Linked DNA regions of Homo sapiens. Each later gene encodes a partner of the first gene's protein in a complex. Each region holds a gene or a part of one and is shown in the gene's direction. Other genes may lie near its edges.

The links. Proteins that work in one complex are often made in the same cells at the same time.
Region 2: RPF2 (region 1) and RRS1 share a complex: the UniProt entries of both Homo sapiens proteins name them as parts of the hexameric 5S RNP precursor complex.

Annotation. Positions count from the first base shown.
Region 1 is NC_000006.12:110,984,960-110,992,057, forward strand, and holds part of RPF2 (ribosome production factor 2 homolog), read left to right. Parts: intron 1-46; coding exon 47-179; intron 180-4,068; coding exon 4,069-4,106; intron 4,107-6,787; coding exon 6,788-6,827; intron 6,828-7,098. UniProt on the Homo sapiens protein: Involved in ribosomal large subunit assembly. May regulate the localization of the 5S RNP/5S ribonucleoprotein particle to the nucleolus.
Region 2 is NC_000008.11:66,424,345-66,431,233, forward strand, and holds RRS1 (ribosome biogenesis regulatory protein homolog), read left to right. Parts: upstream 1-4,669; 5' UTR 4,670-4,787; coding exon 4,788-5,885; 3' UTR 5,886-6,389; downstream 6,390-6,889. UniProt on the Homo sapiens protein: Involved in ribosomal large subunit assembly. May regulate the localization of the 5S RNP/5S ribonucleoprotein particle to the nucleolus.

The DNA of each region.
Region 1 (7,098 bases):
GTGAGGAAAATGTTTAAATAGTTATGAATTGTGCTTTTCTGAACAGAAAGCCCAAAACGAAAAGAGCCAAGAGATTCCTTGAGAAGAGAGAACCGAAACTCAATGAAAATATTAAAAATGCCATGCTGATTAAAGGGGGAAATGCAAATGCAACAGTGACAAAAGTACTTAAAGATGTGGTAAGTATATATACTTAATCTTTAAAAGGTATTGAAGTCATTTTAGAATTTTCAGCATGCTAGGATGGGCTGTCGGAGAAATACGTAGATAAGCTTGCCTTACCATAAGAACTACTAGTCTTAGAGAAGAGCTAAAGTTGGGGGTTTATTTACCTTGCGTGGCACCTTTTCTTAAAGCAACTAGTTCTCTTAGTAAATTTTATTATTGTTTTTTAGGAGCACAGGTGGGTCTGGTAGAGTGAAGGTCTCCCTTAGTAAATTTAAACTGTTTTCAATTACTAGAATTTGGCTTACTTACATTTTAGGAAAAAATCTAATTTGTAAAGAGAAGTAACTGCATATTGCTGTATATTTAGTCATTCAACAACACCGGTTACTGTGCCTCTGCTGGGAATTAATAGGTGAGACACAGTTCTTTCAGTGAGCTTAGAGAGATAGACATGTAAAAAGTTCTTACACTGTGCTGTGCTGGAGGCATGGACAGGGTAGGGTGGGAAACAGTTAAAATCACATAGGGGAGGCCAGGCACGGTGGTTCACGCCTGTAATCCCAGCACTTTGGGAGGCCGAGGCAGGAGGATCACGAAGTCAGAAGTTCGAGACCAGCCTGGCCAACATGGTGAAACCCCGTCTCTACTAAAAGTACAAAAATTAGCCGGGTGTGGTGGCGGGCGCCTGTAGTCCCAGTTGCTCGGGAGGCTGAGGCAGGAGAATCGCCTGAACCTGGGAGGTGGAGGTCACAGTCAGTCGAGATTGTGCCACTGCTCCAGCCTGAGTGACAGAGAGAGACTCCATTTCAAAAAAAAAAAAAAAAAATCACATAGGGGGACCCCCACACAGGGTAGGTTCCCCCAGAGATAACACTGCAGCTTCATTTTGAAGGAGAAGTTGGTGCAAGAAGTGGGAGAGAAAGAGAAGATCCTCTGAGGCTGAGAAAGAAGTTTGTGCAAAAGGGAGTATGAAGGAGCATTGATGCATTTGGAGAACTGTAAATAATTGGGCATGGCCAAAGGAGAGTGGGCTAGATGAGGCTAGAAGAGGAGGCATGGGTCACATAGTAACATGAAATTTGAATTCTAATCTGAAAGCTCCGTGTAATCATTGAAAGATATTAAGCAAGAGATACCATCAGTCCTTTTAATTGGCTTGATTAGAGAGGGTTGAGAGCAAATGTAGGAAACTAAGCCATTGCTGCCAGCTAGGTGAAGAGCATCTGGAGTCCAGTGGTGGCAATGAAAATGAGAAATGACCAGAAAGAATAGATGTTGAGGAAAGAAGAGTTGGGAACTAGTGAAAAGTATGACTTCCCAGGTGTTTGGCTTGAGTGCCTGATGGGCAATAATGCCAATTAGAAAATGTATCAAGCGGAGCAGGTTTGGAGGGAAAGGTGAAAGGTTCGGTTTGGGACATGTAATTTAAGTAATGAAAATAAAAGCTTTGTTTTTTCTACCTCTGTAGCCTAGTGTACAGCCCAGTGTCTGGACATAGTAGGTACTCAATATATATGTAATCTATGAAAGAAAGGCATAGTATGGGCCAGGCACAGTGGCTCACACCTGTAATCCCAGCACTTTGGGAGGCCGAGGTGGGCGGATCACGGGGTCAGGAGTTCGAGACCAGCCTGGCTAACACGGTGAAATCCTGTCTCTACTAAAAATGCAAAAATTAGCCAGCCATGGTGGTGGGCGCCTGTAATCCCAGCTACTAGGGAGGCTGAGGCCGGAAAATCTGCTTGGACCTGGGAGATGGAGGTTGGAGTGAGCTGAGACCACGCCATTGCACTTACTCCAGCCTGGGTAACAGAGCAAGACTCCAACTAAAAAAAAAAAAAAGACATAGTATGTGGAGATATCTAGTAGGTTATTTGACTAATTAGGCCTTGAGTACAGCCAATAGATCTTTGAATTAAATCAATTAAGTAATCGAATACATTTTTGTTGTTGTTATTGAGGTGGAGTCTCACGCTGTTGCCCAGGCTGAAGTGCAGTGGTGCCATCTTGGCTTACTGCAACCTCTGACTCCCGGGTTCAGGCGATTCTCCTGCCTCTAGCCTCCCAAGTAGCTGGGAGCCACCACACCCAGCTAATTTCTGTGTTCTTTTAGTAGAGACAGGGTTTCACCATGTTGGCCAGGCTGGTCACAAACTCCTGACCTGACATGATCTGTCCGCCTCGGCCTCCCAAAGTGCTGAGATTACAGGAGTGAGCCACCATGCCTGGCTTTGAATATATTTTAAACTTGACCAAACTCTATGCCTGATAAGCATAGTCAATTCAGATGTCTGAATGCCTTATATAGGCCCATCCCTTTTTTGAAATGTTTGTCTGAATTTCATTGTGCTAACGGGAAACTGCCCCTCTCCTTCTAGTATCCATCAGCACAATGACCCTGCATATTTAAGTAAGCTTTAAAAGCAGCACAATATTACAGATTACTACAATAATTAAAATTCATCATGATGACTCTGAGTCATCAAGAAGAGGTGGCAATGTTTATTACACGGAAACAGGGAAATAGTTGGCCAAGAATCATCAAAAGTTTTAGTACTTAAAAAGGTAGATTTTACTGTTGCATTTTCTTTGTTCACCAACTCTGATAGTTGATGAATGATTATTATACCTTATTTTTCATTGTTTCCCTCATTTACCCATTTCTCTAATGCAAGGTAGTACCTGATGACATCTTTGTTATTCTCTATGGTAGAGCAGTACTGGCCATACAAGTAATAAATGATTATAGGCCAGGTGTGGTGGCTCACACCTGTAATCCCAGCACTTTGGGAGGCTGAGGTGGGAGGATCACTTAAGCCTAGGATGACAGCCTGGACAACAAAGTGAGACCCCATCTCTATAAATTAAATTTAAAAAAATAATAAAATACAGCCTGGACAACATGGTGAAACCCCATCTCCACTCAAAATACAAAAATTAGCTGGGCGTGGTGCATGTGTCTGTACTTGGGAGGCTGAGATGGGAGGATCACCTGAGCCCTGGAGTTTCAGGCTGCAGTAAGCTTTAATCACGCCATTGCACTCCAGCCTGGGCAACAGAGTGAGACCCTGTCTCAAAAATAAATAAATAAAATAAAATGAATGATTATTTGTGGATAGGTAGAACTAGGAAAAAAATGAAGAACATTGAATAATAGGCATTTTTTAAAGAGCTGTGTTTAACCTCTGGCTAGTATTCTAATTGTCATCATTATTACTGTTTCTAAGTTTTCTGATCTCCACGCAACATTATTTCAATCTGTCAGCCTTTCGTGATAGAATTTATTTTTTCTGTTTTTGTCTACTACTTTTTTTTTTTTTTTTTCTGAGACAGGGTCTCACTCTATCACCAGAGCTGGAGTGCAGTGGTGCAATCACGGTTCACCACAGCCTCGAATTCCTGAGCTCGGGTGATCCTCCCGCCTTAGCCTCCCAAGTAGCTGGGACTGCAGGCATGCACCACTATGCCTGGCTAATTTTTGCAGTTTTTTGTAGAGACAGGGTTTTGCCATGTTGCCCAGGCTGGTCTCGAACTCCTGGGCTTGAGTGATCTGCCTTGTCCTCCCAAAGTGTTGGGATTACAGGCGTGAGCCACTGCACCTGGAATTGTTTCCCTAGAGAGAGACTGGACTAAGTCGAGTTTAAAGAAATGAAGGAAATTGTTTAAGTTGGATAGACTATTGACAGGGCATAGAAACTTTTAAATAGGAAAGTCTAGTCCAAGAATATTAAGCTTACATTTCAAGTTACTGTAAGTGATGAAAAGGGAGCCAGGCAGAAGCCCTCAGAATAAGATTGAGGCCCCAGAGCAATCTTGGAGAGTGACTGTTATGATGCTTTATTTTTATTTCTGCTTTTCAGAATGTGTTTTGTTTTGAAAGCTATAAATTTTGTTTTACAGTATGCACTGAAAAAACCATACGGTGTACTATATAAAAAGTAAGTCATGATTTCTTTTACTGTATTTTAAATGATTTTGTTTCATTATAAAAGTAACCACTTTATGGAAGATTTGGAAAACAAAAACTTTTTAAAAAGATATTAAAATTCCTTACAGTTATTAATATTTTAATTTCTTTCTTTTGGTCTGTTTTTTTCATTTGTATTGAATGTCCTTGCATAGTTGTAACCATAGCATATATATTTTATTTTGAAATACAGATTTACAGAAAAGTGCAAAAATAATGCAGAATTCCCATATACCCTTCACCTGGCTTCCCCTAATGTTACATCTTGCATAACCGTAATGCAATGATCAAAACTAATAAATTAACACCGATTCACTCATGTTAATCAAATGACAGACATATTTGATTAGCACCAGTTTTTCTTTTTTCCTTCTTTTGAGACGGAGTCCTGTTGTCGCCCGGCTGGAGTGCAGTGGCATGATCTCTGCTCACTACAACCTCTAACTCTGGGTTCAAGCAATTCTTCTGCCTTGGCCTCCCATGTAGCTAGGATTATAGGCACGTGCCACCACGCCTGGCTAATTTTTGTGTGGTTTTTTTTTTTTTTTTTGAGACGGAGTCTAGCTTTGTTGCCAGGCTGGAGTGCAGTGGCATGATCTCGCCTCGCTGCAACCTCTGACTCCCTGGTTCAAGTGATTCTCCTGCCTCAGCCTCCTGAGTTGGGATTACAGGCATGCACCTCCATGCCCAGCTCATTTTTGTATTTTTAATAGAGACAGGGTTTCACCATGTTGGCCAGGCTGGTCTTAAACTTCTGACTTTAGGTGATCTGCGCGCCTTGGCCTCCCGAAGTGATGGGATTACAGGCGTGAGCCACCCCGCCCGGCCCAGTTTCTTTTTTCTTTCTTTTCTTTTTTTTTTAAGACGGAGTTTCACTCTTGTTGCCCAGGCTGGAGTGCAGTGGCATGATCTAAGGTCACTGCAACACCTGCCTCCTGGGTTCAAGCAATTCTCTTGCCTCAACCTCCCGAGTAACTGGGATTACGGGCATGCGCCACCACGCCCGGCTAATTTTGTATTTTTAGTAGAGACGGGATTTCTCCATGTTGGTCAGGCTGGTCTCGAACTCCCGACCTCAGGTGACCTGCCCACCTCGGCCTCCCAAAGTGCTGGGATTACAGGCGTGAGCCACCGTGCCCGGCCCTAGTTTTCCTTTTAATACTCTTTTTCTCTTCAGGATCCCATGTTGCATTTAGTTTTCATGCCTCCTTAGTCTTCTCCAATTTGTGACAGTTCCTTAGTCTTTCATTGTCTTTGATGACCTTGACATTTTTGACAAGTACTTGTCAGTTATTTTGTAAATTATCCCTCAATTTGGGTTTAAATTTTCTCATGAATTGATTGAGGTTATGCATGTTTGTCAAGAACACTACAAAAATGTTGTGCTTTCCTCATATATTCTTCTGGATTATAATCCAGTGTTCTTAATTTTGTTGCTTAAATTGTTCTGTTTGGCAATTGGGAACCCCCCCCCCCCCCACCTTTTCTTTTGTTTGTTTTTTTAGTATGAGACGGAGTCTCACTCTTTCACCCAGCCTGGAGTGCAGTGGTGCGACCTCAGCTCACCACAACCTCTGGCTCCTGGGTTCAAGCGATTCTCCTGCCTCAGCCTCCTGAGTAGCTGGGATTACAGGTGCCCAGCTAATTTTTGTATTTTTAGTAGAGACAGGGTTTCACCATGTTGGCCAGGCTGGTCTCAGACTCCTGACCTCAGGTGATCCACCAGCTTCAGCCTCTCAAAGTGCTGGGATTACAGGCGTGAGCCACTGCTCCCAGCTGGGAACTCTTTTACGTTGGTTCCTATGACCTTTCAACATGCCTCCTGTTTTTGAGCACTTCCTTACTTTCTAACATCACAAAATTATCTGGGTTCATCTTGTCTTTTTCCTTACCACAGCCCTGGAATAAGCTACAGTCATCCCTCAGTATCTGTGGGCGATGGGTTCCAGAAACCTCCCCTTATTAAAATCTGGGTATGCTCGTCTCTTACATAAAATGGCCTAGTATTTGCATATAACCCACACACTTCCTCCTGTATCCTTTTTTTAAAAAATGCTTCCCATAAAAGTAAGTTGCATATACTTTAAATCATCTCTCGATTACTTATAATATCTAATATAATGTAAATGCTATGTAAATAGTTATAATGCTGTATTTTCTGGTTTATCCTGCTTTTTATTGTTCCTTTTTCTTTTTATTTCTTAACTTTTTTTTTAGAGACGGGGTCTCACTGTTACCCAGGCTGGAGTGCAGTGGCACGATCATATTTCACTGTTGTAAGCCACTGTGCTCGGCGCCCCCTGCTTTTTTTTTTTTTTTTAACACACTTTCTTTGTCTATTGAATACTGTCAATCCGTGGTTGGTCAAATCAATCCATGGATGCAGAAGGATGCAGAATCCATATGTACAGAGGACTACTTATTTTCCACGAGCCTATAAACTCCATGAAAGCAAGCATCTTGTTTAATGTAGTAGTATAGTATCACTAGCTCCTAGAATGGTAGCCTGGCATATAACAGGCACTGAATAAATATTTGAATGAATGAATATCCTTTCAATTGTTTTATCATCTGAATATAAAATTACCTTAATATATTAATTGTATATACTTATTTAGATTATTAAAATTGTCACTTTTTTGATATTCTTAGGAAAAATATTACAAGACCTTTTGAGGATCAGACATCACTGGTAAGTATAATAATCTTTATGATTTAAGAAAGCATATAAGTAGTAATTATTCAGACTAATTCATTTGTACTCCAAATTTGTGATTTTTTTAAACATTAGAAGTCATCCTGTGTGAGGGAATTTTGTGTAAAATGGAGAGGAAATACTTTAAAAAATATCTATAGAGCTTTCATTTCACTATGGCTGGGAAATGTGTTTTTCATTGCCTGCAAATATATTGATAAAATTTTTAAAACTTGGCCGGGCGCGGTGGCTCACGCCTGTAATCCTA
Region 2 (6,889 bases), on another chromosome or scaffold:
TTATGTTTTGAGGGAACATGAAAGGTATTGCTTTCATGGCTTTAACCTTCTTATTCCTGCTTTGGGAAAAACTCTCCCTTCCAGGTTCACTTTACAATAATTGCTGCTTTTTCTGCCCTGCACCTCACCTCACTTTTCCCTTTCTTGAGGAATGTTCTTAAGGCTCTAGAGAGAGCTAAGATAGAAAATAAGAGTGGGAAAGAAATACTTGGAAAACAAGCATAAGGAGGACTATCATGACATGTGACTACAAAAAAAGTTGCTTGGGGCCAGATCATAAACATCCAAGACCAAGAATAGTCATTATTTCATTAAGGAGAAAGGAGGGTCTTTGAGAAGAGTGATTTGGCCAGATGCACAAAAGGTAAAGCTTCAGGACTGCCCTGAAAAGAGTATGGAAGCAGGAAATGTTGGGATGCTCCTAGGATGGTTCCCAGGATATCAGTCAGGGCAGCAAACAGGCAGTGGTCAAGCTGGGTAATTTAAGAAAGATAAACAAAGAATACTTGCAGAGATGTGGGCAGTTTAAGGAAACTGACAATAACGGTAGTGCTGCATTAGCAGAGAACTATAATCACTCCTAGGCCTGCAGCAACCAAGGGAGCAGCTAGAGGAGCAGGAGGAAGATGGCTGCGTGGACAGGGCTACCTGATGGGAGCTGTGGCCTTTTGATGGACTTTTGATGGCAATCTGCATGCGTGCCCTCACTCTCTTCACGCCTTCTGATCTTCTGTCACTGCCCCTGCTGGCCAAACCCAGTTGGAAGCCAGGGACAGAGTGGAGAAAGAATATGGAGAAGCAGATGAAAGAGATCCAGTCTAGGAAAATAGTGGCAAGGTCATGGCAGTGGGAATGGAAAAGGTACAATATAGAGATAAGCCAAACAAGACTTTTACATTGATTGGATTTGGAGATAGGAAGAGAAAAGTCAAGGATGATGTCATAGTTTCAAGCCCAAGCTCTAGACTAGAATGATGATAACATCAACTCAATGTCGGCATAGTGCCTCAGGCATCAAAGGCCTTCTATAAACATTTCCTGGGAGAAAAAGAGGGGAGGGATGGACGGATGGATGGATGGATGGATGGATGGATGGATGGATGGATGGATGAAGGAGAAGCAAATCTGGGAGATGATGATATGTTATGTCGTTTTAGCCATATTGAGTTTAGAATATGGCGGAAAAGCCCAGTAGGTAGTTGAAGATTAAATCCTAGAGCTCCGAAAAAGAAAGAAAAATGTACCTGTAAGAACCAGCTGCACAAAAGTGGTAGCTGGCACCATGCAAGTGGATGACATGTCACAGGGAGCACATAGAGAGAAAAAGTGGGATCTGATGACCAAACTTAGGATCTCTCTGTATTTACGGGATATAAGGAAGAAGGGAAACCAACAAAAGAAAAAGACAATATATACCACCATTTGCTGTACTATTAATATATATTCATATATATTTATACATCTCTGGTAGGCCTCCTTTTTCTTTTTTTAATGAAGGAGGTTTTTATTTATTTATTTCAGAATCAGGAGATGCTCTGTTGCCCAGGCTGCAGTGCAGTGGCACCATCACAGCTCAGTGTAACTTCAAACTCCTGGGCTCAAGGGAGCCTTCCTCAGCCTCCTGAGTAGCTGGGACTACAAACGCATGCCACTACAGCCAGCTAATTTTTTTACTTTTTGTAGAGACGGGGTCTCACCATCTTATTCACGCTGGTCTCAAACTCCTGGTCTCAAGGGATCTTCCCGCCTTGGCCTCCCAGTGTTCTGAGATTACAGGTGTGAGCCACCACGCCTGGCCAGAGCCTGCTTTCTCTGGGCACTGTATAGTCTTGCCTAAAATAAGAATGATACAAATGCAACCTGGAGACCACAACTTACCCACTTACCTCAGTAAGATTTTTTTTAAGCCCGAAATCCCAATCTTACTGTTTTTGCTCACCTTGAATCTAACACAATCAATAGTAATAACCTTTAATTAGATAACCCTATAGTGTTTATGCTTTTAAACAATCATTTTGTTGAATGCCTAATATGTGCCCAGCACTATGTGGAAGTAAAAATCAGTCTCTAGTCTTCAAGGAAATTAAAATCAGTTTAGACTATAAAAAACCACTGAATATGGCTGGGCAAGGTCGTTCACGCCTGTAATCCTACCACTTTGAAAGGCCAAGGTAGGTGGATCACTTGAGCTCAGGAGTTTGAGACCAGCCTGGGTTACATGGCAAAACCTGGCTCTACAAAAAATACACACACACACATGCACACAAAGAGCCAGGTGTAGTGGCACGTGCCTGTAGTCCCAGCTACTTAGGGGGCTGAGGCAGGAGGTCCACTTGAACCCAGGAGGTTGAGGCTGCAGTGAGCCAAGATCGTGCCACTGCACTCCGGCCTGGGTGACAAAGTGAGACCCTGTCTAAAAAAAAAAAAAAAAAAAAAACACTGAACATAAAACAGAGTTCAATTAAGAGCTGACCTGTATGATCCAGATCATACCATTTAACACTTGTCAACCTATGCTCTTTTTTTCCCAATTCAGAAGATTGACAGAGAAGCTAACTCCTACATAACTGGTACTTCCTATTAAAGGTCCAATGACGTTACATTATATAGTCAATTTCTTTTTACCTTTCTTCCCCAGTATTCCATAAGGTCTCAGTTATCTTTGCACCTAGTGTCTGCCACATGGTAGCCATTCAATTAAATGTTTGTCAAGTGAATGAATGAATGAGAAACCAAGCCAAGCCCATAGCAGTCATATCAATACACTCAACTCTCTCCTATGGCAAATCCCAAAGGTTTAAGGCTCAAGGCAGTTAGCTAATATGGTCTTTGACCTAGCCTTGGCTACATGGGATGACTGATGTTAAAGCCTTGATGCTGAATGTTAAAGTAGGTTCAAGGGGAAAAAAAAAACAGCAAATTCTAAAATGCTTCTGGATGAGAAAGGCTAGCACAATGCTGAAACTAAACTGAGTCTATTTGCTAATTGCTATTAAGTTAATTTCATTGGTTAATTCTCCAGCATAACCCCCTCTAGGATAAACCTGGCCCCCAGTGAAAGGAAGATAAACCCTGTAAACCACGCAATCAACAGTGCCTCTGATACTCAAATGTACATCCTAGTCACCTACAGATCTTATTAAAATAAAGGTTCTGATAAATTACATCTAGAGTGAGGCCTGACGTTCTGCATTTCCAACAAGCTCCCAGGGGATATTATGCTGCTGGTATGCAGACCACACTTTAATGAGTATCAAGAGCTTGGACGACATTGCAGAGAATAGATCTACAGACTTAAAACCAGAGTTAAGATATCTCTTGTTCTTATATTCCCTAACTGCATAACTTTAGATAAGTCATTTCACCTCTCTGAGCCCTCCTTGTTTCATCTGTGAAAATAATATAGTTAATACAATAATTAATAACATAGTTAATACTAATAGCTAACACATACTGAGTTCTTACCATGTAGCAGTAACTAATGTTTTATGTTTGTCAATTTATAAATAAGGCTTAGATCAAACATCCTCTCCAAGTAATGGTGACCTGATACCTGATTGTAGGCCGTTTGACTCATACTTAACACCATGTAGCACTTACCTCCCAGAGCCTATGAAAATGAAATAATAATCGGTATTTGGCTAATTTGTACTGAGTACTCATACGCTCCAGGCCCTCGTCTAACCCTCCCTTGGACGATATTAACTCATTTATCTTATAACCACCCTAGGAAGTATTATTATCATTATCTCGCAGGCCTTAAAACGGCCTCAACAAGTAAAATTGCTGAAGGACCAACAGTGGCACAGTCAGGATTGGAACCCAGGCAGTGTAACTGCAGAGCGTGGCTTAGTTTCAGCACTGTACTAGATTAATTGAACTAGACTAGGTTCTGTAACTGCAGAATCCCGGATCTCCGAGTCAGCTAGCTCACTAGGGTCGGTGCACACCCGCGCCCACTCGGGGTGGCTTCATTGCCAGAGCCACTGACTCCCAAAACAAAACGAATCTTCTACAATTAGCTCTATGTGTATCTTTGGGATGTTATCTTTCTCGGGCCACAACTAGGAACCCTGAAAGCCGACTATGACTCCAGTGAAACTATTTGGCCCTAAGAAGGGTGATTGTCTAAACATCTTCACAACGGATTTACACTGAAATTGTAACACGCACTTGATTGGAACCCCACACCACAGGCAGTCCCAGGAATTTGTACCCGCCCCGGTCCCGGACCGCGCCCCTGGACAAACCCTCCGGCCCGCCCCTCCGGATTGAGCCCCAAGACTGTCCCCGGACCACCATCCTAAGACCACTCCCTGAACTGCCCCCCCCAAGACCGCCCCCTAGATCGCCCCCCGGGACCGCCCTCTCTAGACCGCCTGCGAGACTGTCCCCGGACCGCCCCCTGGACCACCCCCTAGGCGGCCCCCCGAGCTGTCCCTGGACCGCCCTCTAGACCGCCTCCCGCCCCCTGCATCCTGGGAATCGTAGTCCCAATCCTGCTCTGGAACTAGCAGTGCGGCCTGCTCGGGCCAGCTCCGCCTCTATCTGGCGCCAGCCTAAAGGTCCCGCTTCTAATCCCATCATCTCTCCATACCGCCCTCTGCCGGCCTTTCCTCTGGTCGCCCGGATTGCGAGCCGCTTCCGGACGCTCCGGAAGCGAACCTTTCTTTTCCGGATTGGGCATCCCGGCATCTGCACGTGGTTATGCTGCCGGAGTTTGGGCCGCCACTGTAGGAAAAGTAACTTCAGCTGCAGCCCCAAAGCGAGTGAGCCGAGCCGGAGCCATGGAGGGCCAGAGCGTGGAGGAGCTGCTCGCAAAGGCAGAGCAGGACGAGGCAGAGAAGTTGCAACGCATCACGGTGCACAAGGAGCTGGAGCTGCAGTTTGACCTGGGCAACCTGCTGGCGTCGGACCGGAACCCCCCGACCGGGCTGCGGTGCGCCGGACCCACGCCGGAGGCCGAGCTACAGGCCCTGGCGCGGGACAACACGCAACTGCTCATCAACCAGCTGTGGCAGCTGCCCACGGAGCGCGTGGAAGAGGCGATAGTGGCGCGGCTGCCGGAGCCCACCACACGCCTGCCGCGAGAGAAGCCTCTGCCCCGACCGCGGCCACTTACACGCTGGCAGCAGTTCGCGCGCCTCAAGGGCATCCGTCCCAAGAAGAAGACCAACCTGGTGTGGGACGAGGTGAGTGGCCAGTGGCGGCGGCGCTGGGGCTACCAGCGCGCCCGGGACGACACCAAAGAATGGCTGATTGAGGTGCCCGGCAATGCCGACCCCTTGGAGGACCAGTTCGCCAAGCGGATTCAGGCCAAGAAGGAAAGGGTGGCCAAGAACGAGCTGAACCGGCTGCGTAACCTGGCCCGCGCGCACAAGATGCAGCTGCCCAGCGCGGCCGGCTTGCACCCTACCGGACACCAGAGTAAGGAGGAGCTGGGCCGCGCCATGCAAGTGGCCAAGGTCTCCACCGCCTCTGTGGGGCGCTTTCAGGAGCGCCTCCCCAAGGAGAAGGTGCCCCGGGGCTCCGGCAAGAAAAGGAAGTTTCAACCCCTTTTCGGGGACTTTGCAGCCGAGAAAAAGAACCAGTTGGAGCTGCTTCGTGTCATGAACAGCAAGAAGCCTCAGCTGGATGTGACTAGGGCCACCAATAAGCAGATGAGGGAGGAGGACCAGGAGGAGGCCGCCAAGAGGAGGAAAATGAGCCAGAAGGGCAAGAGAAAGGGAGGCCGGCAGGGGCCTGGGGGCAAGAGGAAAGGGGGCCCGCCCAGCCAGGGAGGGAAGAGGAAAGGGGGCTTGGGAGGCAAGATGAATTCTGGGCCGCCTGGCTTGGGTGGCAAGAGAAAAGGAGGACAGCGCCCAGGAGGAAAGAGGAGGAAGTAATAGTTTCTAACTGTCGGACCCGTCTGTAAACCAAGGACTATGAATACTAAATGTTAAGTTCTAGGCAATTATACGGGGACTCAGAAGGACCTGGCCGCTGCCTTCATTGAGTTTAAAGGGACAGGATTGCCCTTCCGTCAAGAAAGTATGTAAGTGTTGGACTGCACAAATTAATGTTTTTCCCACAACCGAGACTTTGGAGATTAAGAACTTATTTGAGGATTTAAGAATTAGGGAAATAATTTGGTGGAAACCGGGAATGAGTTCTATTCTTAAACAGCCTTTTTTTTTCTTTTTAATGTTGGATATACGGCGAGGTAGAGTTGGCCATATTTCAGAGACTTAGATTGACGTATATGTTTCTGCATTATTTTTACAACAAGTTTGTGTATCAGAGCGGGAGTGCGGGGGAGGGAAAGAAAACAAACAGTTTCAGAATTGAATAGGCAAGTGACTGTTTTAAAGATTAAGTAATAAAGATGTCTTATCTAGTGTGACTTTTAACTTTCTGACTACTGGGTAGAAATTGTACTTGAAGCCGGTTACCTGGATACCTGGTACAGATTATTTTTGTTTACTTTCTGAAAAACACAAAGCAGGCCGTGCGCAGTGGCTCACTCCTGTAGAGTCCCAGTACTTTGGGAGGCCGGGGCGGGCGGATCACCTGAGGTCAGGAGTTCGCGACCAGCCTGGCCAACACAGTGAAACCCCATCTCTACTAAAAATAAAAAAATTAGCCAGACACGGTGGCTGGTACCTGTAGTCCCAGCTACTTGGGAGGCTGAGGCAGGAGTATCGTTTGAACCTGGGAGGCGGAGGTTGCAGTGAGCCCAGATCACGCCACTGCACTCCACTCCAGCCTGGGCAACAGAGGAAGGGGCCATCTCAAAAAAAAAAAGCAGTTCAATTATAATGGTTTCAGTGATACCACTTCTAAACTTATACTTCTTTTGGTATCAAATATAATATTCAAAGTAGTAAAACTGATGTCTGTTTTTTAAAAA